Linked DNA regions of Homo sapiens. The protein of the gene in region 2 purifies or fractionates together with the protein of the main gene of each other region. This does not show direct contact. Each region holds a gene or a part of one and is shown on either strand. Other genes may lie near its edges. The genes, in order: HTR2C and TMEM161A.

What was found.
Region 1: the proteins of TMEM161A (region 2) and HTR2C purify together in Homo sapiens (co-immunoprecipitation; one large-scale study listed by IntAct). This does not show direct contact.

What each region holds. Positions count from the first base shown.
Region 1 is NC_000023.11:114,849,534-114,853,362, reverse strand, and holds part of HTR2C (5-hydroxytryptamine receptor 2C isoform a precursor), read right to left. Parts: intron 1-3,829. UniProt on the Homo sapiens protein: G-protein coupled receptor for 5-hydroxytryptamine (serotonin).
Region 2 is NC_000019.10:19,124,919-19,128,747, forward strand, and holds part of TMEM161A (transmembrane protein 161A isoform 1 precursor), read right to left. Parts: intron 1-3,829. UniProt on the Homo sapiens protein: May play a role in protection against oxidative stress. Overexpression leads to reduced levels of oxidant-induced DNA damage and apoptosis.

The DNA.
Region 1 (3,829 bases), on a different chromosome or scaffold from region 2:
ATAATTTTGTATGGCAAAATACCATAGCTATATCAAATAGCAAACAGAAAATATTTTCATTTATAACATGTTAAATGGTTAGTGTCTATAACTTATAAAGAGCTATTAAATTAAGAAATAAAAATGAAAAAAAATCAGAAAAAATGAGCAAAAGGACACTTAAAACTGATTTAGCAATGGCACTGAAGTGGTTTTCATACATTTAATCATATGAACTTCAGCCAAATAAAATAGATGCAAATTAAAATTACACTGAGGTAACATTTCTCACTTATGGGATTTGCAAAATCTAAAAAGTTTGAAAATAAACTTCATTAGCAAGGCTTTGGGGAAACAGAGGCTTTCTTGCATTGCTGGTGGGAATGCAAAATGGTTCAACTCCTAACTACATGTACCCTTTGATCAATCAACTCCTCCTCTAAGAATTTATTTAGAAGATAAATTCTGAATACATTTGAGCAAGAATTTATTTAAAAGTTAAACTTCCAATAATATGAAACACACACATGCACGCGCGCGCGCACACAAACACACAAGACAGACACACATGCACGCACGCACACACAAAGGACACACACACACACACACACACACACACAATTATTCTTAGTAGAATTATTGGCAACTTCCAAATGTTGGAAACAACTTACCTGATTATACACAGAAGATTGGTTAAATAAAGTATATCAACACAATCTATTATTAGTGAGTGTAAAAAATAATAGAATGAATTTAGCTTTTAATTGGAGTATTTAGGCCATTTACATGATAAAGTTGGGTGCATATCTATCATCTTACAAATTGATAGAGTGATTTCCAGGACATATTTCCAAGTAAAAGAACAAAGCAAAACAAAGTATTAATTTGTATGTAGCATTTTAACTTTTAATTTAAGAATGGAAAAATAACAATACGTGTATTTGTGTATAATCTTTTTTTTTTTTGCAAAAATAAATTCAAGAAGTATGCCCTAGAAACTAATGAATGGGTTAACCACGGAATAGAAGAGGAACTGACTCTTCTCTGAGTATTTTATTTGCCTAGTTTTGACTGTTGGAGCATCATATTAAAGTTTTACATATTAAAAAATAAAGTCAACAAGGTTGGGGAATACATGCAAAAACAAAACAAAATCCCTAAATGTGAACAATTGGTATCAGAACCACAGAGAAAAAAAATTCAAACTAATCCTAGCATTTTGAAGACAATGCTTTGACTATATGCCATTGGTGGAAAACATTCTAAAGATAAAATTGCAATGAAATTTTAAACATTGCATTTCATTTATTGGTAGTGGTATGGGTATAGAAATTCTGAAATTAATTTCTTGTATGGTAGGATATAGAAAATATAAATAATAAATATATCAATGGTTTGGGGACAAAGTTACTCACTGTGAGAAAAATGAGGAAAAATAAAGAATTGGAAAGTAGCAAGAGTCCTGTGTTCGTGAATTGGGATTAAAGGTATTGATATATAGGAGCAATGATATCCTATTAGCAATGAGCATACTGAGCTTCTGCATCCTGCTTTATAAAACCATTGCCCACTAAAAGGGTTTCTTGTAAGAAATGGCTAATTTCGGAACTGGGGCATGGAAAGTAAAAGGTGAGTCTGGCAAATGCTCAAAAGCTGATGGGATATATGAAAAGGAGTTCTTATTAGAAAAATATGAGACAATTTGAGCATCAAAATAATTAAGGGCAATAATGAATCATATATATTACACTGAATACAAAAGAATCCAGGAGTCTCCACCAACATGAACTAATAAATAACAAAGACTTGGAGGGAAAACACTTCCTTACAGTATAATACCAACAAATAAAGGCAGGAAGAATAATAAAATGAGAAAAATTATCATTGTATCACCTTAGTAATAGATAGCTTAGGGAAGAATCATCAATGGATTTGAAATCCATTAGGTCAAAGTTTATTGGGAAACAATTTCTTAATTTCCAAATATACGAAGGTTTTTCTACTATTTTGAAGTCATTTCTATTTCTTTTGAATTTCAGTCAAAGAATAAACAATTTATTCCAACCCTTTGGAATGTGTTGAGGAATTACTTTATGGTCAGTTTTGATAAATATTTCTTGTGCAATGATGGGAATATGTATTCTTCACTTGTCAGTGAGTTCAGGTTTGTTAATTGTTTTCATACAATCGCTGAGAAGGATGTGCTAAGATCTTATGCGATGATTGTAGACTTGTCTATCTGTCCCTGAAGTTCTGTCCTCTTTTACTTTATAATGTATATACTATGTATATTACATATGTATCTACATATAATTATGTACATACAAATTTATTACCTTATGTCTTCCAGATGTATTAAATCTTTCATAGTAAGTAATCTTCTTTCACTGGAGTATTTGTTTTTTGCCGAAAAGTCTATTTTGACAAATATTAATATAGCTATACAGTCTTTCTCTTGGATAGTGTTTAGATGGAGGAATTTTTTTGTTTGTTTTTATCCTTTTACTTTCTTTATGCTTTATATATGCCTCTTGTAACATATAGTTGTCTTATTTTTTTGAAAGCCTATATGACAGTCTTAGAATCCTTAGTAATTCATATAATTAGGGATATATTTGGTTTTAATTCTGCCATTCAGTATACGTTTTATATTTTTCTATCTTTTATTGACTCCTTTTGGATTTATCTTATTATTTCATTTTATCTTTTATTTGTAGAGACAAAGTGTTGCTTTCTCATCAAGGCTGAAGTGTCATAGCACGATCATAGCTCACTGCAACCTCAAGACACTTGAGTTCAAGTGATGCTCCTGCCTCAACCTTCTGAGTAGCTAGGGCTACAGGCACATGCCACCATACCCAGCTAATTTTTAATATTTTATAATAATCTTCTGTAAATTTGGAAATTCGCCATCTCTAATCTGCCACAGAGTTCTTAGGTTTTCATTTTTTAATTAATTAATTTTTTTTGTGTGTGTGACAGAGTCTCACTCTGTTGCCCAGGCTGGAGCGCAGTGGCATGATCTCAGCTCACTGCAGACTTGACCTCTGAGGGTCAAGTGATCCTCCCACCACAGCCTCCCAAGTAGCTGGGATTACAGGCGTGTGCTACCATACCTGGCTAATTTTTGTATTTTTAGTAGAGATGGGGTTTCATCATGTTGTCCAGGCTAGTCTTGAACTCCTGGCCACAAGTGATCCGCCTGCATCGGCCTCCCAAAGTGCTGGAATTACAGGTGTAAGACACTGCCTGGCCCTTAGTTTTTCATATTATGCTTAAGTTCCATATTTTCTAGGTGTTTCTCAAATCTTAATGTCATTTGTTATAGTTTGCAGTTTCTTGCTGAAGTGTTTAAGATCAGCATGTAATTTCCATGTGCACATTCCAAATGATTATTTAAAGTGTATGTCTGATAATTCAATTATCTGAAGTGTTTGTAAGTTTATTTCTGTTATCTCTTATTGTCCCATACCTGATTCATGTTGTATTGTCTCCTCATATATCTGCATATCATTGTATTTCAGTGACAGCATTTGAAAATTATTGAAAGAAATAAGTTGAAATCTAGGATTATGGGGTTTTTTTTGTTTGTTTATGCCCCAAAATTGGAAACCTGAATAATACGAAATCATCTTAATCCAATTTTAAGGCCCAAGATTTCTCTCATTTACATAGATGACTTGAACCAGGGCTGAATTCCATGTCTATGGTGATTTAATCCTGGTCGATCCTTATTCCTAGTGTCTGGTTTTTTTGTGATCCCAGAATTAAATTCAGGTTGGTTGGCCCTTGCCAGACTCTGTATTCCTACTCTAGTCCTCCATTGCTTGCGAGTCTGAAATGATCGTCT
Region 2 (3,829 bases):
CACTCCAGCCTGGGTGACAAGAGCAAAACTCCATCTCAAAACAAAAACAAAAACAAAAAAAAACTTAGGTGAACAAAAGTGAGACCTGGTAAAATATATATAGCATTAAATGCTATATATGCTATAAAATTAGAAAAGATTGAAAATTTATGAGCCAAGTAGCTAACTGAGAAATTGGAAACAAGAAAAGGAGGTACGCCAGTACTGTTCTCAAATCCAGAGGTCCTAGCCACACCAAAGGGGAAGGATCAGACAGAACAAAAGAAAACCAAAAAGAATCTGCAATTCAATAAAAATATAATTGTTTAGCAAGGTTAGTCCGTGGAGACACTCAAATTTGACCCCTATATGATAACACAAAAATTAATGTCACTGTCCATCAGCAACAGTGAGTAGTTTAGGAGCTTATATGAAATGTAAAAGTTGAAATATTTTATTTATTGATTTTTAAGATGGAGTCTTGCTCTTGTCGCCCAGGCTAGAGTGCAATGGCGTGATTTCGGCTCACTGCAACCTCTGCCTCCGGGGTTCAAGTGATTCTCCTGCCTCAGCCTCCCGAGTAGCTGGGATTACAGGTGCATGCCACCTTGCCCAGCTTTTTTTTTTTTTTTTTTTTTAGACGGAGTCTCGCTCTGTTGCCCAGGCTGGAGTGCAGTGGCGCGATCTTGGCTCACTGCAAGCTCCACCTCCCGGGTTCACGCCATTCTCCTGCCTCAGCCTCCCCAGTAGCTGGGACTACAGGCGCCTGCCACCACGCCTGGCTAATTTTTTGTATTTTTAGTAGAGACGGGGTTTCACGGTGTTAGCCAGGATGGTCTCGATCTGCCGACCTCGTGATGTGCCCATCTCGGCCTCCCAAAGTGCTGGGATTACAGGCATGAGCCACCACCCCTGGCCAGTCATTCTATATTTTCTTCTAAAATATTTCAGCCAGGCGTGGTGGCAAGCGCCTGTAATCCCAGCACTTTGGGAGGCTGAGGCAGGTGGATTGCCTGAGGTCTGGAGTTCAAGACCAGCCTGGTCAACGTGGTGAAACCCCATCTCTAGTAAAAAATACAAAAAGTAGGCCGGGCACGGTGGCTCGCGCCTGTAATCCCAGCACTTTGGGAGGCTGAGGCGGGTGGATTGCCTGAGGTCTGGAGTTCAAGACCAGCCTGGTCAGCATAGTGAAACCCCATCTCTAGTAAAAAATACTAGAGATCGCCCACTGCACTCCAGCCTGGGGGAAAGAGCGAGACTCTGTCTCAAAAAAAAAAAAAAAGACAATGTAGAATGACTTTCTGATTTTAGGGAAGGATATTTTTCAAGACAAATATCAACTAAAATAATCAACTTCCATTCATCAAGACACTAGAGGTGACACTTACAACTACATTTGACGACTCAGCAAAGAAAGTGTGATGCATGTATGCAGACGGAAAATAATGCAAATAGTGGTCAAATGAAAACAAAAGAAGTATTGGCAATGAAGTGGATAAATTTGGAACACTTGTGCACTGCTGCTGGGAATATAAAATATAAAATGGGCTGAGCACAGTGGTGCACACCTGTAATCCCAGCACTTTGGAAGGCCGAGGCTGGCGATTGCTTGAGTTCAAGAGTTCAAGACTAGCCTGGGCAACATGGCAAAATCTGTCTCTATTAAAAACACAAAAATTATCTGGGTGTAGCCAGATGTGGTGGCTCACACCTGTAATCTCAGCACTTTGGGAGGCCAAGATGGGCAGGATCACCTGAGGTCAGGAGTTAAAGACCAGCCTGGCCAACATGGCAAAACCCCATCTCTACTAAAAATGCAAAAATTAGCCAGGTGTGGTGGCGCACACCTGTAATCCCAGCTACTTGGGAGGCTGAGGCAAGAGAATCACTTGAGCCTGGAAGGTGGAGGTTGCAGTGAGCCAAGATCATGCCACTGTACTCTAGCCTGGGTGACAGAGGGAGACTGTCTCAAAAAATAAAAATAAAAATAAAAAAATAAATTAGCTGGGTGTGGTGGTGGGAGCCTGTAGTCCCAGCTACTTGGGAGCCTGAGGCATGAGAATCACTTGAATCCGGGAGGCAAAGGTTGCAGTGAGTGGAGATCACGCCACCACTGCACTCCAGCCAGGGCAACAGAATGAGACTCTGTCTCAAAAATAAAATAAAATGGTTCAGCTGCTGTATAAAACAGTATGGCAGTCCCTCAAAAAATTAAAAGTAGAATTATCATATAATCCAGCAGTTCCACTTCTGGATATATACTCTCCAAAACTGAAAATGGGGTCTCAAAGAGATACCTGTACACTCAGGTTCACAGCGGTATTAGTCAAAAAGCCAAAAGTTGGGAACAACCCAAGCATTCATCTGTGGATGAATAAACAAAATGTGTTCCACCCAGACAATGAAATAGTGTTCAGTCTTTTTTTTTTTTTTTTTTTTTGAGATGGAGTCTTGCTCTTTCACCCAGGCCGGAGTGCAGTGGCACTATCTAAGCTCACTGCAAGCGCCGCCTCCTGGGTTCACACCATTCTCCTCCCTCAGCCTCCCGAGTAGCTGGGACTACAGGTACCCGCCACCACACCCGGCTAATTTTTTGTATTTTTTTTAGTAGAGACGGAGTTTCACCATGTTAGCCAGGATGGTCTCGATCTCCTGACCTCGTGATCCGCCCGCCTTGGCCTCCCAAAATGCTGGGATTACAGGCGTGAGCCACCGTGCCTGGCAGTGTTCAGTCTTAAAAATGGAATTCTGGCTGGGCCCAGTGGCTCACGCCTGTCATCCCAGCACGTTGGGAGGCGGAGGTGAGAGGACTGCTCGAGGCCAGGAGTTTGAGACCAGCCTGAGAAGCATAGCAAGACCCCATCTCTACAGAAAAAAAAAAAAAAATTAAAAATTAGCCAGGTGTGGTGGCATGTGCCTGTGGTCCCAGCTACTTGGAAGGCTGAGGTGGGAGGATCACTTGAGCCCTGGAGATCAAGGCTGCAGTGAGTTGTGATTGCACCACTGCACTCCAGCCTCGGTGACAGAGTGAGATCCTGTCTCAAAAAAAGAAAAAAAAATTCTAACACCTGCTACAACATGGATATGCCTTGAGGACATTGTGCTAACTGAAATGAGCACGTCACAAAAGGACAAATACTGTATGATGCCACTTATATGAGGAACCCAGAGTGGTCACATTCACAGAGACAGGACGTAAAATGGTGGGTGTCAGGGGCTGCAAGAAGGAGGAACAGGGAGTTAGTGTTTGATGGGCTGGAGTTTCAGTTTTGCAAGAGCAAAGAGTTGTGGAGATGGACGGTGGTGATGGTTGCACGACATCTAAATAGACTTTTTTTTTTTTTTTTTTTTTGAGATGGACTCTTGCTCTGTCGCCCAGGCTGGAGTGCAGTGGCGCGATCTCAGCTCACTGCAAGCTCCGCCTACCAGGTTCACGCCATTCTCCTGCCTCAGCCTCCCAAGTAGCTGGGACTATAGGCGTGTGCCATTAGCCTAGCTAATTTTTTGTATTTTTAGTAGAGACAGGGTTTCACCATGTTAGCCAGGATGGTCTTGATCTCCTGACCTTGTGATCCGCCTGCCTTGGCCTCCCAAAGTGCTGGGATTACACATGTGAGCCACCACACCTGGCCTACATTTTTTTTTTTTTTTTTTTTTTGAGACGGAGTTTCACTCTTGTTGCTCAGGCTGGAGCACAATGGCTCGATCTTGGCTCACCACAACCTCCGCTTCCTGGGTTCAAGCAATTCTCCTGCCTCAGCCATCCAAGTAGCTGGGATTACAGGCATGTGTCACCACGCCCGACTAATTTTGTATTTTTAGTAGAGACAGGGTTTCTCCATGTTGATCA